Linked DNA regions of Homo sapiens: region 2 is linked to region 1. Evidence: fine-mapped expression QTL. Tissue or cell type: whole blood. Region 1 holds a variant in brackets; the other region holds the start of a gene. All regions are shown on one strand. Distances are between the middles of the regions.

What was found. PIP is the estimated chance that this variant, and not a neighbour inherited with it, causes the effect.
Region 2: it holds the start of CRTC3, and the variant in region 1 is fine-mapped to the expression of CRTC3 in whole blood (INTERVAL, PIP 0.97).

Annotation. Positions count from the first base shown.
Region 1 is chr15:90,592,286-90,597,434 of GRCh38, reverse strand. It overlaps CRTC3 (CREB regulated transcription coactivator 3), which reads right to left. Exons shown (of 15, transcript NM_022769.5): 3 at 3,680-3,799. LOC124903555 (a long non-coding RNA gene) reads left to right here and starts at 1,457. Exons shown (of 2, transcript XR_007064758.1): 1 at 1,457-1,544; 2 at 3,573-4,075. RefSeq lists enhancers at 1,406-1,475, 2,871-3,371. The variant T/C (reference allele first, on the strand shown) is at 2,836.
Region 2 is chr15:90,526,825-90,531,973 of GRCh38, reverse strand. CRTC3 (CREB regulated transcription coactivator 3) reads right to left here and starts at 2,051. Exons shown (of 15, transcript NM_022769.5): 1 at 1,771-2,051. The coding sequence starts at 1,902. RefSeq lists an enhancer at 948-1,107 and silencers at 1,498-1,677, 1,698-2,447, 2,548-2,597.

The sequences.
Region 1 (5,149 bases):
GCATCTCTTCACGACCCTTCACGCTGGTGAACTCTTGACTTCCTTTCAAGGAAGGCATTTCGTGTTTCCTTCTGAGCGTGTCATCCACAAGGCTGAGAAAATATTTTATTTGCTATAAATTTATGTTAATAGTTCAGAAGTTTAGCAATGGTGTTTGGGACACGGCACGTCTGCCAACCTTGATGAGTGAGAGTAAGAAGGGCTGCTACAGACTGCACATCTGCAGAAGGGCAGAAGAGCTTCTCTTCCAAGTGCCCGAGCCCAGGCCCCCAGCCAGGAGCAAGCCCTGGCAGTGCCTCTCCTCCGCCTGTGTGGGGCTAGGCCAGGGCCCAGCTGCAGCTGTGCCTTGGTCTTGTGTGGCCACCCATGCCAAGGGCAAAGCCCACTCCAGAAGGAATCTCCTGTGGCAGAGCTCTGCGTGCTGTGGCTGCCCACTCTGAGAGGAGGCCAGAGTATTTGTTAAACAATGTTCGTTTTATTTGAGATCACCCTATCATAGGAGTGAACCCTTAAAACCCTTGTCTAAGCCAGTGTGTCTTAAATAACACCCAAGCCAAGAAACAGCTATAATAATTCTGATTTTTTCCTTTTGTTCTAACAAAGATTCAAACTAGTGTTTTATACTTTCAAATGAAGAAACTTCATTTAAAAAGTCATAGACAAATGTTCAAGGCCACAATTTTAAGCAGATTATTTCACAACCAACAGAATGCAGGTCGTGAAAGCAAAGACGGAATCACAGCCCTCCTCCTCCAAGTGGAATAGATTAACACCAAAATAAAATCATCCCATTTCACGGACCCTTGATTCCTCAAAAGAGACTGGGCTAAAGAACTTTCTTTGCATCAACCGATGTCCAGTCCCAGGAACCCAATTTAGGAGCTTAGGAGACCACAGAGACATGGCTCATGATCAGTGAATCTGACTCATACTGTCTAATAACTTTAATTTCTCTGCATATTAACTTGGTTTTTGTTTCTCCTTCCTTTAGGAGTTGACTAGCTTTGCTTATGCTCTCAAGTTGATCCATACAGTGCCAGATTATACCCTATCATAAGAGATAGGGTCCCCTGAACACAAGAAGTCATCTCCCCTTCTGGGTAGGACTTTGCACCACATTCTCTTCCCTCTGCCTGGAACATACCTCCCAACTGCTTTACTCTCTTAAATCTCACTCATTACCATCTAAAACCATTTTCCTTTCTTATTGCCTGTTTGCTGTCATCTCCCACAGGACTGTGAACTCAAGAAAGCAGGAAGTATGCCTCCCTTATTCATCACTGGGTCCCCAGTGCTTAGAACAGTGCCTGGCACAGAGACGGGGCTCTGTAAAGATCTGCTGAATGAACACTTTATCCTCTTACTTCTTATCCTTCAAGCCTCAGATGTTCCCCCAGGATGCCTTCTTCGTTTCCCCAGACTAGTTCAAGCTGCACCTCCGACGTGCTCCCACAGCCCCTGAGCTGCCTCCCTGCAGACGCCATACCTGCCGTGGCTGCTTGTTTGCTGAGTAGCCTCTCCCACTGAACCCTGGGCAACTTGAGGTCAGGGACCATGCTGTTTACTGTTACAGTGAATTAAAATGTCTAAAACGGTGTCTGACCACTAGCACATACTTAACAAATAATTTTTATAAGTGAATAAACATTCTCCTCTTTTTTCTTCAATTCCCTTCTCTATTTTGGTTAGTAAAACTATATGCATGCTTATACATTTAGACCGTACTTCAAAAGTATCTGAGATAGCCACATATACATACACACACGTATATATAGCATAATGTTTAATCTAATATATAGAAATGAGAGCACTGACAGGAAAAAGAGGGAACTGAGAACTGAAAAAATATACATTGGTTTTTTTTTTTTTTTTTTGAGACGGAGTCTCGCTCTGTTGCCCAGGCTGGAGTGCAGTGGCGCGATCTCGGTTCACCGCAAGCTCCACCTCCCGGGTTCACACCATTCTCCTGCCTCAGCCTGGGACTATAGGTGCCCACCACCGAGCCTGGCTAATTTTTTGTAATTTTAGTAGAGACGGGGTTTCACCACGTTAGCCAGGATGGTCTCAATCTCCTGACCTCGTGATCTGCCCACCTCGGCCTCCCAAAGTGCTGGGATTACAGGCGTGAGCCACCATGCCCAGCCAAAAAAAATACATTGTTAAATCAATCAAAGAAACACTCCAAGTCTTTTGCCTGAATATTCTTGGCAATTTGGACAACGGTTTGATGTACCACTCCATCCTGACATGTACAAATTTGCTGATGAATTGCCTCCATTTCCTTTTGCCTTTTTCATTCAATGTCAAAGTTATCACACATTCCAGAATAGATTCTCAAGATCATTTATCATCTTTACTTTCCTTGATAACAGCCACATAATATACAAAATCAGAAGTCAGTCCTTCTGTGGACCAAATGTGGTGTGTTCCTGGGGGCGGGAGAAAGGGGAGAGAAAAACATTCCCTGGGGTCATTATCCTTGCCTCCAAATAGACTAAAAACTGCAAGAAGCTTGAAGGCAAGAAAAGTTGGGGTTTCCCTAGAGTGCCCCCACAACTCCTGGCTCCCTTGTACAAGGTCCTCATCACTGCGAATGGTCGCAGGTGGCATAGGGAGGGGAGAGCACAGGCTGGGCCATCAGCGGGGCCTGGTCTGAATCCTGGGTTACTTCACCACACACTCAGTTTCCTCATCAGAAAATGAGGGTTAAAAAAATTAACGACTCAGTGAGTTTTTGAGGACTAAGTGACACATAAATTACCCAGCACAGCGCCTGGCATGGGTAGGTGCTCAGTAAACATGAGTGCCCTGCCCCCACTTCCTGGTTTCTAGGCT[T/C]GTGAAGCCAACTCTACCATCACTGCCAGGAATTCAGCTCTCCGCAGCGAGACCCACCCCGCCTTTCTTCTCCTTCCTCCACCCCTGCGCCCGAGTACTGAGAAGAATGAAGTGAGAGCACGGGCCCTCCTGGCACACTTCTGTGTCCTCTCCCAAAAAATCCAGCTCAGTTCTGTTCCCCAAAGCCTTCGGCACAATGCTGGTCACACAGCTGCACCCACCACTGCCGCCCTGTAAACAGGACTGATTAAATGAAACTGTCAGGTGAATTCACCATTTCCTTTCCTTTATTTCTACTTAACAGCAGAGTTTGGTGTGACTGTACATCACTGCATGAGATTTTCCTATATTCTAGGTTTATTTTAGTTATCACTTACTGAGTTTGAAACATCACAAATAGAAAATAATATGAAATTTTGTCTGTAAGTTCCAAAAGCAGGTCAGCAGATCAAAAGAAGTACAAATAAATCACATATCTCTATGTCCATTTTTGCTAAAGAGACTAAGGCTCTCTAACCTGATTCAAAGTCAGGTTTAACTCTAACGTGGCCAATTTCTGGAGAAAATGCTCAGAACACCCTGCAATGGGACCGAATTACAGGTTGTTTTTGTTGTTATTTCATTAAACTGAACTTTATTGATGCTTTCATAAACACCTACAATGATGTTTCCAAATGTTGACTGCAGAGATGTTTCTAGTTTCCAACTCATTTATTTGTATTGCCTCCTTTCATCAGATAAATGAAGATTCTGAGGCCAAAGGAGAATTGCAGGGAAGATAAATCCTGAAAACTTTTCAAACATTTCAGAATGCACACTCCCTTTGAAGAGTAAAAAAGGATATTTGTCGCCCTGGCTTGTCCCCAGACCTTCGGTGGAGGGGGTGGAAGCGGTTCCTGGATGGCCTCTCCACCAGCCCGTGATGGCGGGTTCCCCGAACATTATCAGCTTGGTGAAATGACGGCTGCAGAGAGAAGGGAAGAAGAGTTGGCCTCCAACCATGAAATTGACACTCACCCTCAAGAACAACTGATAACAACAGGAGATGAAAGGACCGATTTTACAGTTTTACTTATTATACATTAGTGGGCCTTGGGTCAAGGTAAATAAAGTAGTATATGGAACTATTTCTTTATAATAACCATAAAATAATGACAAATAATCTGTAGTGTGTTAAGAGGAAAGCTGAAAGAATAATAAAAGTTGTCATGCAATTGGGGGAGGAGAATCAGAAGACGGTGAACTCATATACTAAATCCCAGAAAACTAGAAAGGACACTTTGAAATGTAAAAGAGGTATATTAAAGAAAGAAACTGGCAAGCCACGAGGCACCTATTTGTTCTGCACAGTGTCTTTTAAAATTTTTGATTGAATTCATAATGTTTGAAAATTCAGACTTGAGGATTCTAGGGAAAAGTCAGAATTTTTTTTGTTTGTTTGTTTTTTGAGATGGAGTCTTGCTCTGTTGCCCAGGCTGGAGTGCAATGGCGTGATCTCAGCTCACTGCAACCTCCGCCTCCCAGGTTCAAGTGATTCTCCTGCCTCAGCCTCCCAAGTAGCTGGGATTACAGATGTGCGCCACCACGCCCAGCTAATTTTTGTATTTTTAGTAGAGACGGGGTTGCACCATGTTGGCCAGGCTGGTCTCAAACTCCTGACCTCAGGTGATCAGCCCACCTCAGCCTCCCAAAGTGCTGGGATTACAGGCATGTGAGCCACCGCACCCACCCATAAATCAAAATATCTTGGCCACAATGAGCCGCACTCATCTCAGGCTCAAGTTGAGCATGGCTGCTCCCTGTAGATGGGACACCCACTCTCTTACTATGAATCCTTACACACAAACCATTTCACTGACTCATCATTTTAGACATTCAGAGTGTGTAACCCCTGAGTTAAAGAGGAAAAAAGGAATGCTATGTAAATACAAGTGGAAAACATACAAATCATCAGTCCCTAAATGATACAAATGAAAGCAGAAACAGATTGTAGATAAATTCATGGTCAATAAATCCAAAATCCTTTTTAAAGAGATGCTTGGGGTACGTTCTTAACATTTTTGAGACTGGTATCACAAAGGGCAACCTTTTTGGTTGTCAAAAGCCAAATCCTAGGCTGGGCCAATAAATCTCACATAATGAGGCAATGTGTATACATTGTGCAATAGATGTGCTTGTGAAATATAGAAAACAGATTTTCTTCTCCCATCCCCTCCAGCATTAAGGTGTTACTGACAAAGAAAAATTGTATATATTTACACTGTACAACATGATGTTTTGATATATGTATACATAGCAAAATGATGAAATCAAG
Region 2 (5,149 bases), 65 kb after region 1:
ACACTTTTTTTTTACTTGAAAGTAAGTAAACAGTGAGGATCTGTGAAAAATTTTTGCTTTTAAAAGAGAGTCTGTACATTACTCATGGCCTCACCTGTCAGGGATATTTTAAAGAAGATTCATGAATTGGGTGAAAGATTGGATCCGCCATAGGTATACAGACATATACAGTGCATGTATTTGTACATAAACAATGTACAGTATGTATTTAAAAACACATAACAACACAGGCCCCAACACTAATCCTCAGCTTTCACCCACCCATTCTTTTCAACGTGCTCTGAGCTTATCGAGTTCATCTCTGAATCTAACCAAGGTCACAGATGTAAATGCCAGTGGATGCCAGGCAGGTAAAAAATGAGTGAAGCTGATAGGGTATAAGAAAACATTTTCTTGAAATCTTCAGCTTCTTTCTCTCTATATATATATTTTTTCTCAATGTGAACAGAAATGTAAGTACAGGAAATATTTCACTTTTTCCTTAACTTCACTGAAAGAAAACACCATCATGAGTATAAATGGCAACTGTCACCTAATCTCCCCTTGGGGGACTGTGACAGAGAGTGGACGGTGGCAAACTAGAGTTCTTACTCCATTTGAAAGGGAGCTCAGCTCAGCTCCCTTTCATCATCACCCAGCTCCAGCAGGTCGGTAGCTGTCATGTAGGAATTCAGAATTAGTGTTACCAGGTCTCCCAATTTTTAACATATATAAATAATAATAAATAAATAATACGGAAATTTGGATTTTGTGTGGAAGTCTTCCAATTTAAAAATTCTGGCAACAGATTCAATAATTTTTCCCAAACACTGCGCTGGCCAAAAAATAATGTGTCTGCAACTCAGCTGGTTTGCAACTCTGCTCTCAGCTCTCCTTCAAACTGTCTCCCCCGCCTCAGTCCCCCAGAATCTGCAGATCCTCCCCCATCCTCCCGATGGTCCTCCAAGGTCAGCATTCAGGATCCTCAAGGCCAGCCCCACTCCTGCTGACCCCCCTTCTCTGCAACCCTGCGCGGACACTCCGGTTGGCTCTCCATCCTCCACTGCCTCACTCAGCGGTTACCTAACCTCTCCAGGTGTTTGTCCCGGCTCGCGCCTTACTCATTCCTCCAGGTCCCTCTCCAGTCACCAGCGACGCTTGTCAGTTCTCACTAAATATCCCGGGCCGAACAAAGTAAACTGGACCCGATAAAGCACCTCCAAGGAGTAAAAGGAGCAGAGCCTCACACTCGACACGGAATCCCGTCGTGGTTCCAACAACCCGAGCCACCCCAGGGCCGGGCCCTGGATGGACTTGTGCACAGAGCTCCCCCCACGAGCGCGTGGGACCCTGGGGTGCCCGCGGCCTTCCACGCCGGCAGAACAGCAGGGCTCGATGGTGGGGGATGTTCGGAGCGACCAGAAGCCGCGCCGCGCCACCCGGCCGGCCTCCGAGCTGTTTGCGATTTCCTCTCGGGGCTCCTCGTCCTCCTCCCCCTCAGGCCGCCCTCGCACGGCCGCCCGCCTCCACGGGCTTCACCCCTGCCCATCTTCCCGCACACGGGGCCGGGCGACCCTCCCACCTCAGCCCGGGATCGCGAACGGCTAGCGGGTGTCGCCAGGCGGGGAAACGCCGAGGCCGCGGCCGCTCCGGTCCCCCTCCCAGCCGCCGGTTCCCGGGCGCGGCCCCCGCCCGGCCCCGCCATCGCCTTGGCCCCGCAACCTCTCACCCGCCGCGCGGGTCCCGCCCGCGGCCGTGGCCGCCCCCGCCCGCGCCGGCCCGGGCCCTCACCCGCGACAGGGTGAGGTCGGTCATGAGCTGCTCGAAGGCCCGCGTCTCCTCGGCCTGTCTCTGCGTGTGCAGCGCGATCTTCTCACTGAACTTCCGCGGGTTGGCGCTGCCCGAGCCCGGCGAGGCGGCCATGGCGCGGACTCTGCGCGGGCAGAAGCGGGAGACGGCGGCCGTGGGGCCTGTACCTCGGCCCACCCGTCCGTCCACAGGCCGCCGGGGCCGCCGCCCGAAGCCAGTCGTCCGGCGCGACCCGGCAGAGGAGCCGCCGCGGCCCCGGAGCCAGCGAGCGGCCGGGAGCGCGCCGAGGTCCGCCCCCGTGCGCCCGGCCCCGCCCCACCCTCGGCGGGGCCCGCCCGGCCTCCAGTCTGCCCCGGCCCCACGCTCGCGGGCTGAGGGCTGCTCCCCGCTTCCCGGTCTGGCTCGGGACCCGCCGCCGGCGGCCACCTGGAGGGACCCCCGTCAGCCCGACAAAGTGGCCCCGGCGTACGGGGAACGCTGGGGTGCCACTCCACGGAGACTCTCCGACCCAGGGATGGCCTCTGCGTCTACGCGACGTGGAGAACACAGCCTGTGCCCGCATCCCCCCTCCCCCAGCCAAATTACGAAGATTTTCTTCTCCAGGTGGAACCTGGGCGACCGGACCTCGAGCAGGTCACCTCGGGCCCCCGCAGGGGGTGCGCCCATTTTGCCTGGGGCCTAACGTCTGCCCGCCAGCCCTGCCGCTCCAGGCCCCCGGCCTCCAGCCGCTGGTTTCCTGACCTCTCACACCCACCCCTCCCCGCTCCAGTCAACCAGAGCTGTATCTCGGCTTTAAAAACTGCCTCCTATTCTGCACAAACTACAAACACCATCCAGCCCTGCTGCAGCCTTGGCTCCATAGCCCCGGCCCCCTTTCCAGGTTCTTTCCAAGTCTCCCTACGGCCTCTCCACTCCTGTGGCAGCTTCAGCAGGTGCCAGCCCCACCTTGGGAAACCAGCGCTCAGCCTCAGCGAATTTCCCCTTCTTTTGGGGGAGTGAATGGATGTCTTTCTCTGTCGCCCGGTCTGGAGTGTAGTGGTGCGATCTCGACTCACCGCGGCCTTGACCTCCCGGGCTCAAAAGATCCTCCCACCTCAGCCTCCCGACCAGCTGGGACCACAGGCGGGGGTCACCACGCCCGGCTAGTTTGTAAATGTTTTTGTAGCAATGGGGGGCGGGGGTGGGTCTCGCTATTTTGCCCAGGCTGGTCTCGAACGCCTGGGCTCAAGCGATCTGCCCACCTCAGCCTCCCAAAGTGCTGGGATAACAGGCGTGGGCCACAGTGCCCGGGGAGTTTCCTCTTTGGAGTCCAGAAGCTACTCTCAGCATAAATGTTGATGTGCACAAAGATGTCCCGGGGAGCCCTGAGCGTGTGTCAGTGTTCTGTAAAGAGGGAAATATTAGAGGCCTACGGAAGAGTACGGAAAATAATATTAATACTACCCACGCCCCCCACTATCAAGATTAAACAGACATCAATACATTTTGCTGCATGTACTTGGGATTTATTAAAGACATACAAAATTAGTCATAACGACGGCCCCACTCTCATTTCTTCTTCCGCCCCACAGATAGTCACCGTGCTCAAGTTGGTACATATCATTCCAGTTTGTGTTTTTATACTTTTATTACATATGATGTAGAGATCCAGCAATGCTATATGGAATACCTAATTTTGTTTTTAAACTTTACAAAAATGACACCATACTGAATAATCATTTTGCATCTTTTTTCATTCTCCATTATGTTTTCGAGATATATTTGTGTCAATTCATTTATATGATAATATTCCATTATGTTTTTCACCTGTCTCTCAGACATAGCCTATAACTGGACTTTTTAGAAAATGTATTCTGAAAATATATCTCTGTTAGCTAGAATTTAGCTATTTTTATTAATTATAATTGGATTTTTTTTTCTGTTGTATTTTGTGTTATTTACCATGCTTTTTTTTTGTTGTTGGTTTGTTTTTGAGACGGAGTCTTGCTCTGTTACCCAGGCTGGAGTGCAGTGGCCTGATCTCAGCTCACTGCAAACTCTGCCTCTTGAGTTCAAGTGATTCTTGTGCCTCAGCCTCCCGAGTAACTGGGATTACAGGCTTGCGCCACCATGCCCGGCTAGTTTTTTTTTTTTTTTTTAAGACAGAGTCGCGCTCTGTCGCCCAGGCTGGAGTGCAGTGGTGCAATCTCGGCTCACTGCAATCTCTGCCTCCTGGGTTCAAGCTATTCTCCTGCCTCAGCCTCCTGAGTAGCTGGGATTACAGGTACACGCCACCACGCAGGCTAATTTTTTGTATTTTTTGTAGAGACGAGGTTTCACCATGTTGGTCAGGCTGGTCTCAAACTGCTGATCACAGGTGATCCACCTGTCTCGGCTTCCCAAAATGCTGGGATTGCAGGCGTGAGCCACCGCGCCTAGCATTTTTCTTTACATTTTATTTCTGCTTTTCTGTTACATTGTTTGGGTCAAGTTTCAGAGAACAGAACCATTCTAGATGGTTTAAGTACAAAAGAATATATTACAGGGTATAAAATGACTTCCAGACTTGTTTGGAGGGCTGAAGCAACCGACTCCAGGTTGAACTTTGAGGAATGACTTTGAGAGCTATGCTGCAATACTGAGCCACCAAAGGAGACACTGCCTCTTTTGAAATCAGGAAGCCATCTACTAAATTGGAAAGCTGTCTCTACACTTACCAGCTCTTGAACCATACAGGTATCATCATGATGAGAAGCCACTGCAGAAATATCAAGCATCGGCCAGGTGCAGTGGCTCACGCCTGTAATCCCAGCATTTTGGGAGGCCAAGGCGGGCAGATCGCCTGAGGTCAGGAGTTTGAGACCACCCTGACCAATATGGTGAAACCCTGTCTCTACTAAAAATACAAAAATTAGCCAGGTGTGGTGGCATGTGCCTGTAGTCCCAGCTACTCAGGAGGCTGAGGCAGGAGAATTGCTTAAATCCAGGAGGGGGAGGTTGCAGTCAGCCAAGATCACACCACTGCACTCCAGCCTGGGCCACAGAGGGAGACTCCGTCTCAAAAAAAAAAAAAAAAAAAAAAAAAAAGGCCAGGCTCAGTGGCTCACACCTGTAATCCCAGCACTTTGGGAGGCCGAGGTGTGGGTGGATCACCTGAGGTCAGGAGTTTGAGACCAGTCTGACCAACAAGGTGAAACCCGGTCTCTACTAAAAATATAAAAATTAGCAGGGCGTGGTGGCAGGCGCCTATAGTCCCAGCTACTCAGGAGGCTGAGACAGGAGAATTGCTTGAACCCAGGAGCAGAGGTTGCTGTGAGCCAAGATCACCCGACTGCACTCCAGCCTGGGCGACGAAGCGAGACTCCGTCTCAAAAAAAAAAAA